2 separate regions of the Homo sapiens genome follow, and region 1 is linked to region 2. Evidence: fine-mapped expression QTL. A gene starts in region 2. The other region holds a variant in brackets. All regions are shown on one strand. Distances are between the middles of the regions. Region 1 overlaps INSC (INSC spindle orientation adaptor protein). Region 2 holds the start of INSC (INSC spindle orientation adaptor protein).

Region 1 (4,389 bases), 55 kb after region 2:
CCTGCCTCAGCCTCTTGAGTATCCTGAGTAGCTGGGACCACAGGGAAGAGCCACCATGCTCAGCTAATTATTATTAATAATAATAATTATTATTGTAGAGATGGGGGTATCGCTATGTTGCTCAGGTTGGTCTCAAACTCCTAGTTTCAAGGGATCCTCCCACCTCCACCTCCCAAAGTGTTGGGATTACAGGCATGAGACATCACACCTGGCTTAAGCTCATTCTTAAAGTAAACCAGATTCTGCTTTTCCCCACTGGCACCTTGTCTGTCCTCATTTCTAGGACTGTTACCGTGAAAGGCAACTCCTGCAGCTGGACAGCTCTGTGTGGCTTTGGCCTGAAAGCAGCAATTATATCTTGGCGGCTCATGATTCTTGCCCACTCTCCTCTCCCGAGCTGTAGGCAGGGTCAGGGGCTCACAGTTTCCCTTCATCTTCCTTTGCCCATAGCAGCCCCAAGTTGTTGCTTGGGCAAATGGTCCTCCCCATCTGCCTATGTTAAGGCTGCCTCATCCCTCTCTCTGCTCATCTACTTTATTATTTTATTTCATTTTATTTTAAGTGCTGGGATACACATGCAGGATGTGCAGGTTTGTTATATAGGTAAACGTGTGCCATGGTGGTTTGCTGCAACTATCAACACATTACCTATGTGTTAAGCCCCACATGCATTAGCTATTTATCTTGATGCTCTCCCTCCCACTACCCCACTGACAGGCCCTAGTGTGTATTGTTTCCCTCTCTGTGTCCATGTGTTCTCATTGTTCAGCTCCCACTTATAAGTGAGAAAATGCAGTGTTTGGTTTTCTGTTCCTGTGTTAGTTTGCTGAAGATAATGGCTTCCATATCCATCCATGTCCCTGCAAAGGACATGATCTTAGCATGGTGCTCAATGCATGGGATATGCTCAATAAATTCCAGTCATTATTATATTTCTAGTTATTGTGACACGTGTGAAGGTGTTTTATATGGGGAAGAGCAGCACAGAGAACTAACATTTTTGAGTGTCCCCTTTTGTGCCATGCAGTGTGCTAGGCCCTACACATTCATCACTTAATTTAATTCTTCCATCAACCCTGTGTGGAAACCTCTATTATTATCTATTTTGTGGATGAAGAAATTGAGGCTCAAATTGGTAAGAAGTTTACTCAAAACACAAACTTATGTTGTTAAAAGTCAGGATACTGGTTATCCTGGTTGGGGAGTGACTAGAAGGGGCTCAAGGGAGAGTTCTGGGACAATGGTAATAGTTAGGTTTCTTTATCTGGTTGCTGAATTCATGGATGTGTTGACCTTATGAAAATGTATTGAACTGTAGCTCAATATTATGATGTGTTCACTTCTATGTACATATGTTATATTTCGATAAAAATTTCAGAAAATGGAAAAAAGAAGCAGCAGCTTGCCTAAGGTCACACAGATTATGAGAAGCAGAGCTAGCTCTTCCTACCCTTATGCCAGTGTGCAGGCCTTGTTTGCTTGTGTCTGGATACATCCCCCTTATGCTCAAACTCGTAGACAATAGGCTACTCAGTCCCAAGGAAGCTGTGGCTCAAGGCCTGTCTGTTAAGGTGGTTAAGGAAGGAGCAGGGTCATTATGAGCCATCATGAGGGGCCTCAGAGGGAGGGTTCCCGATGTAGCTAGGCATTGAAGGCACAGGTCCACGAGGCTCACCTGGGATTCATCTGTAGGACAGATGATGAGG[G/T]CCCGACTGGAAGACAAAGCTACTGGGAGTAGCTATGTTCCTTTCCCCTGAGAGAACAACTTCCACCCATAGCCTGACTGGTGACCGCTTTTCTTTCCACTTCCCAGTTCTTTGAGGAAGGCTCTGTTCCTGGCTCTTTAGCCAGGTTTCACCTATCATCCTGGAGCTTGGACTCTCAAGGTGTTCCCTGCATGAGGCTCATGATATAAAACCAGAGAGACAGCTAGTCTGGGCTCACAGTTTTTGTTGTTGTTGTTGTTTGTTTGTTTGTTTGTTTGTTTTTTTAGATGGAGTCTCACTCTGTCACCCAGGCTGGAGTGTAGTGGTATGATCTCTGCTCACTGCAACCTCTGCCTCCCAGGTTCAAGTGATTCTCCTGCCTCAACCTCCCGAGTAGCTGGGATTACAGGCGTGTGTCACCACACCCAGCTAATTTTTTTTTTTTGTACTTTTAGTAGAGACAGGTTTCACCATGTTGGCTAGGCTGGTCTCGAATAGTTATAGATTTACAGAAAGTTACAAAGGTAGTACAGAGTGTTCCCATATACTCCACACTCAGTTTCCCTGATTGCTGACGTCTTATATTACCATGGCACATTTGTCACAACTAAGGGACCAGCATTGGTCCATTACTATGAACTAAACTCTAGACATTGCAGTTGTCCCTTGGCATCCATGAGAGATTGGTTCCAGGACTTCCCACAGTTACGAAAATGTGTGAATCCTCCAGTCCCTGATATAAAATTGCTTAATACTTGCATATAAGCTACACTTATCCTCTTGTATACTTTAAATCATCTCTAGATTACTTATAATACCTAATACAATGTAAATACTATGTAAATAGTTGTTATACTGTGTTTTTTGTGTGTGACATTTTTATTATCATATTGTTATTTTTTGTTTTTTTGAATAATTTCAATCTGCAGTTGGTTGAATCCATATATGCAAAATCTGTGGATATGGAAAGCTGACTGTATTCAGATTTCACTAGTTTTTTTTTCATGAATATCCTTTCTCTGTTTCAGGATTCCACCCAGGATATCATATTACACTTAGTCCTCATGTCTCCTTAGTCACCTCTGTTCTATGACAGTTTTTCAGTCTGCCTTTGTTTATGATGACCTTGACCACTTTGAAGAGTATTGGTCAGGTGTTTTGTAGAATGTCCCTCAGTTTGGGTTTGTCTGACGCTTCCCTCATCATGAGACTGAGGCTACGTGTCCTAGGGGAAGAATGCTACAAGATGAAGTGCACTTCTTATCATATCCTTTCAGGGGTACATGCTAGCAACATGCCTTATCCTTGGTGAGGTTAAACTTGATCACTTGGTTAAAATAGCGACTGCCAGGTTTCTCCACTGTAAAGTTTCTTTATTTCTCCCTTTTCTATACTCTTTTCTTTGGAAATGATTCACTAAGTGTACCCATGCTCAAGCTCCTCCACCTCCAGTTTTTAATCATCCAGTTTATATGAGGTAAGTCCTGTAAACACATATACAGTCATCTATTTGCGCAAATAGGGATATACAGACACACAGACAGATACAGGCATCCAGATAATATAGACAGGCACCCAGATGGATTCATATCCACAAACACAGACACTGGTAGGCACAAACACGCAGGGCTTGAAGAAATCAATAGTTCTGTCACTCCAATTCTCCTACTAGCAGAGTGCTGAATCGATTAGGAGTTTAATTACAGCTTCTGAAATCTCACTTTCTTTTTAATTCTTACATAGCTTTAAAAACAATAACTAAGTATATACCTCCTGTGTGCATTGGGGTGGAGGGCTTGACAAAAATGTGAGTTGTGGATCTGAGCAGGCCTCCCAGGGCCTTGTTCTCCTTTCCTACCTCTACCATGGCTGTGGGGTTGGGTTGGTTCTTTCCTTTCCAGGCCAGAGGTAAGGGGTGTGAGTGCCTCCATTCAGAGGATGCCAGAGCTCTTCCTTGGGGAGCAGTCCCAGCACACAGGTTTCCTTTGAGCCAGGTGGTGGTCCCAGGTGCTGTAATTTGGCTGTTTTCCAGTCCTAGCCATCCCTACCTCCCCTGCCCTGCCCACCCTCCAGTATCTTCTCAGGGATCTCAATGTGAATGGCCAGCCCCTAATCTGGCACCGAAGGCTTCTCACAATCAGGGCCTTGGTGTACCTTTCTGGCTTTCCTTATCATGGTTCCCTCTCTTCCAGAATGTACAACTCTAGAACAGGGGACTTACTTATTGTCCCTTTGACTGCCTCACCCTGGAATATGCTCTCACTGTCTTGACAAGTCCAAACCCTACCCAGGATATGACCACCTCCTCCAGGCACCTGCCCCTGATCTCCAACGGAAAGGGGGAGTTCTCTTCTTGGAATTCCCAGCAGATCCTTACTCTAAGAAGAACACCAACTCAACTATGTTTAGTTATCTGTGCACTTGTGTCTTAGAAAATGTTCTTTTGGTTACAAGCAATAGAAATTAACTCTTGGACTTGTCTCCCCACTCCCCAAGTGATCCTGGAGGTTCTCATGGAACAACTGAAGTTGCCATTGTTAACATGTCCCATGTACAATAATCCCTGTCTGTATGAACCTTGGTTCTACGTTTCACAATTTGGGGCAAGGAATTGGATTAGTGCAGCTTAGTTCAGAAGCCCACCGCTGGATCAAGCACCAATTGTTTCCAGGGGCATTTTAAC
Region 2 (4,389 bases):
GAAGGTGGATGTGAGTGTGTGTGTGTGTGTGTGTGTGTGTGTGTGTGTGTGTGTGTGTGTATTGGGAAGTGGGGGGGGGGCATTTATGCCAAGTGCCTCCAGGGAACATCTAACAAACCAAGTCTGTTCCTCTCTTACCCTGAAACCCAGACACAGAGTTTGGGCCTGGAAATAAAAGAACTTTGAGGCTTTTTTGCTAACATCGATCTGTTTATGATCTAAGCCTCATTCTATTTCTAGCATATAATAAAATATCTTAGTTTTCCAGGTGCTTTACATCCTTGACCTCACTTCATACTTTCAACAACCTCATGAGCTGGGCAGAGATTTTTATGTTCCCCAATGTACATATGGGAAAACTGATGCTCAGAGAGGTTAAGTGATTTGTCCAAGGACTCATCACTAGAAAGTAGTAGAGGCAGGATGCAAAACAGGTTTCTTTGAGGAAGAATTGGAGACTTCTTTCCTTCCCTTCCTTTCCTTCCCTCTCTTCCCTCCCTTCCTTTCTTCCTTCCTTCCTCTTTCTTTCTTTTCTCTCTCTCTCTTTCTTTCTTTCTTTCTTTCTTTCTGTCTCTCTCTCTCTCTCTTTCTTTTTTGATGCAATCTCACTCTGTTGCCAGGCTGATGTGCAGTGGCACAATCTTGGCTCACTGGCTCACTGCAACCTCCGACTCATTGGTTCAAGCTATTCTCTTGCCTCAGCCTCCTGAGTAGCTGGGGTAACAGGCACATGACAACTCGCCCAGTTAATTTTTGTATTATTAGTAGAGATGGGGTTTCACCATGTCGGCCAGGATGGACTTAATCTCCGGACTTTGTGATCTATCCACCTTGGCCTCCCAAAGAGCTGGGATTACAGGCGTGAGCCACCACTCCCGGCTGAGACTATTCTTATCATACCACCTGCCCTACCGGAAACAGACTCAGAGAGAAGATTCTGCAAACAGTCTGTAAGACTGTGGTTTCAGTGGTAATGCCCAGCCAGGCGGCACCAAGCCCTGTCCCCAGCCCTAGACAGCACTTGTTGAAACAGGAACTGAGGCCCCTCTCAGGGAACTTGGGGAGTAGAATCAGGCTGTTCTGGATGACTGGAGGGTAGAGTTGAAGCTGGCTTGTCTGAGAGGAATGATTTGGCCACCTTCTGAGCCCTGGGCCCCCAGAGAGCTGAGGAGGAGAGTTAATATCAGAGAGCTACTGTGTGTGTTCGAGTCCAGGGAGCAGCAGTTAGCTTCAGCCAGAGCCTGAAAAAAGAAATAGAGATTATTAGCATTAAGGAAGAGAAGGCTGCAGTGGGACCTCGGCGTGGTCGTTTTGTCATGGGGACTGAGTTGAGCTCCTTCTCCCTGAATACATATTGTGAGCAAATTGACATAGTTTGCATGTGAGAGATTTAGGTTAGATGTCAAGGAGATCTTTCTGTCAGTAAGAGAGTTCAAGCTTTGGAACAGGGCTCAAGGGAGACCAGGGGCTGCCTTTGCTTGAGGACCTCCAAGAATAGGTCAAGATTCTCTGGGCTCTGGGAGCCTCATAGCAAGATGGCGGAGGCGGGGGAGGGGGAGTTGTATGAAATGATCTGGAAGCTTTCTTCCAGGTCAAAAATGCCACATTCCCGAGCTTTTGGGTAGGAATCAAGTTCCTCTAGATTTAGCTATTTGACAGAGTCCAGGACGGGGGTGGGGGGTGGGGGGTGGGGTCTGATCTTATGTGCCGAAGTTAGAAGGAGTTTCTGCAACAACCCCTCGTCATTTTTGGCAGGTCCAAGATGTGGAGGGTGACTTAGGTGTGTGTGAGCAAGGTTCCAGAGGGAAGCACCTGCGGTGAATAAACCGTCTCATTCTAGGCGTTTGGGGTCTATCAAAGCTGGGTGGCTTCCTCCTTCCTAGCAAGTGAACTGCACCCAAATCCCTCCTTGTTTTGTTTCAGCTCCAAGGGAAACGATCGCGGCACATTCCCTTCCCCTCTCCAGATGTTGGCATGCGGGGCACCTTGTGGGCGACCCCGCCTGGACGGCTTCGCGGCTCCCGGGCGATCACCCTGGTGCCTGCCGCCTGGCCCGGGGGAGCCCGGTCTCTAATTAGGCCTGACCGCGTCCCCATTCCAGCGCTCCTGCAGATGGGAGGGAGGGCCATGTTTCCCCCCCCAGGGGCACCGAAATAGCCTCGTAGTCCCGCGGAGACAGCAGGCAGCCGTGGCTGACGCGGGACCAAGGCTTGGCAGGGAGCGCGCTGCTGTGGAAGGTCCTTGGGAGGCTGCGACCGCCTCGGAGAGGGCGGGCGGGGGAGAACGGGGCGGGGGGTGGGGCGGGGGCCAGGGGCGGCCTCTCGGGCTGGGCCGGCAGAGCGGCCACTTTGCGCGCGGCCTCTGGAGCTCCAGCTGCGCCCCGCCACCACTGGCCGCTCGCACTACCAGCCTGTCTCGCACGCTAAGTAAGTAGACAGCTCCCCTAGCTGGATTCAGGGGGCTGGTGATGCCTCTGCTAGCCTAGTTGGGAACAGTGCAGGTTTGTCACTAATTGGATAGTAGGTGTAAGTGTGTCAGTGGGAGTGCTTGTGAAGGGGAGCTTGCGCCAGTGTGAGGGAGTGTGTCTGGATGGGATGTCCACATGTGGAATTTTCTAGCATGTGCCCCAGGGTGCGAGTGTGGGTGAACGAGTGTGTCAGAGTGTGTGGTGGCCTGGAGTGGGCCACAGGTATTTGCCTGTGTGGCACCTGCTGCCCTGGGTGCACTGTGTCTGTACCTGTGGAAATGCCTGTGTGTGTGGCAGGAAGGCCCCCAGGTGGGCTGAGCCAGTCCACATGTGGATGAGTGGATGTGCCAGTGTGAACCCAGGAAGGCAGAAATTGGGGCTAGGGAGTGTTATCTGAACTCAGGCTTTCTAAGGTGACCTGACTTGTCCCAGCTGGGGTGTCTTCTCTGTGGGTCATTCAGCTTTGGTTTCTCAGGGCTTGGAGAAGGACAGAAGCTCAGAGCCCTCACACAACACTGGAGTGAATGTGGCTCTGACTAACCCCATCTGGCTAGACCAGGGTCAGGGAGACAGCTTGGGAGACCCCACTCTTAAACCAGGAGAAGAGACAGGAGGCCAGGGGATGAGTGGACCATATGGCCATGGCCACCCACAAACACTCGCAGTGCACCCACGCTTACATGCTCAGCATACACACATTCCTGTCCATGTGCACCAGTCTTGCACACACTCTTCTCAGGATAGCCATGCAACCATTCACACTTTCAACATGTATACCTGTGGACAACGACATGTATGCAACATGCACCCACTTTGTTCAATGCATATGCGCAAATGTATCCCTGGTGTGGCCCCACCCTCAGCCGCTAGCCTCCTCCCACTTTTGCCCCTTTTAATCTATATATTATACCTCTGACAATGGGTCCAAGAAACTGGCCTCAGTGGGGAATATTTTAAGTCAGGGACTTTGGCTGTGGGGGTCAGGGCAGATGGTGATGTGGTGCCTTTGAGGGGTTCCATTGAATCTGAAACTGAGGCTGTCCATGGAGCTCAGCCAGAGAGCATCTTGTCCCTTTAGCTCTGGGACTTAGAAGCACTGTTCGCCCTTTTAGAAGTGAAAACTTCCAAACACTGCCTTTGGAAGGCAAGCCAGGTCAGGCTGGGATCTGACATGGAGCTCAGCATATATAATTTGCTCCATGCTGTAGTTTATACTCTGGATTACACTTGCTGCAGAGAAGCAGTGACCTTTCTGGGTTGGGTCCCAAGGCAACCATTTGGCAGGGAGGACAGTGAATTGAGCTGGGTTGATTCTTTCTCTTCTTTGGTTTCGTTCAACCCTACTTTGAGTCTCCCTCCCACAGGCTGGTGGAGGGATGGCATTTGCTCTGCTCCTTTCCTTTCTTCCAGTGGTTATCTTTTTTTCTGGACAGAATCTTCTCCATGACCTCCTCCCCCTGGTGACCACTGGGCACACACTATACAGCGCTTGGAAGAGTAGGTGCCCTAAAATACCAGCTGAGTGGTGGTGTTATTCTTCTTAGTAGAGCTTCTAGACCTGTCCCATCCTGGCTATTCTCTTCTGAATACTTCAGTGAGGTACCCAGACTAAATGTGCTCTTTCAGCTGGGAAGTTAGAAAGATGGTATTGAGCTTCCTTCCTTCCCTTCCTTTCTTCCTTCCTTCTCTTTCTCTCTTTTCCTTCCTTCCTTCCTTCCATTCTTTCTTTTTTTCTTCCTTCCTTTCTTTTCTTTTCTTTCTTTTCTTTCTTTCTTTCTTTCTTTCTTTCTTTCTTTCTTTCTTTCTCTCTCTCTCTCTCTCTCTCTCTCTCTCCCCCTCCCTCCCTCCCTCCCTCCCTCCCTCCCTCCCTCCCTCCCTCCTTCCTTCCTTCCTTCCTTCCTTCTTTCCTTCCTTCTTTGATG

Evidence for each region. PIP is the estimated chance that this variant, and not a neighbour inherited with it, causes the effect.
Region 1: its variant is the best candidate, but not a certain one, in a credible set for the expression of INSC in whole blood (INTERVAL, PIP 0.74).

Annotation. Positions count from the first base shown.
Region 1 is chr11:15,167,570-15,171,958 of GRCh38, forward strand. The region is part of intron 2 of INSC (INSC spindle orientation adaptor protein); the gene reads left to right. Among named protein-coding and RNA genes, the nearest start is that of INSC, 55 kb to the left of the region's middle. The variant G/T (reference allele first, on the strand shown) is at 1,707.
Region 2 is chr11:15,112,578-15,116,966 of GRCh38, forward strand. It overlaps INSC (INSC spindle orientation adaptor protein), which reads left to right and starts at 2,346. Exons shown (of 13, transcript NM_001042536.3): 1 at 2,346-2,426. RefSeq lists enhancers at 819-868, 1,520-2,053.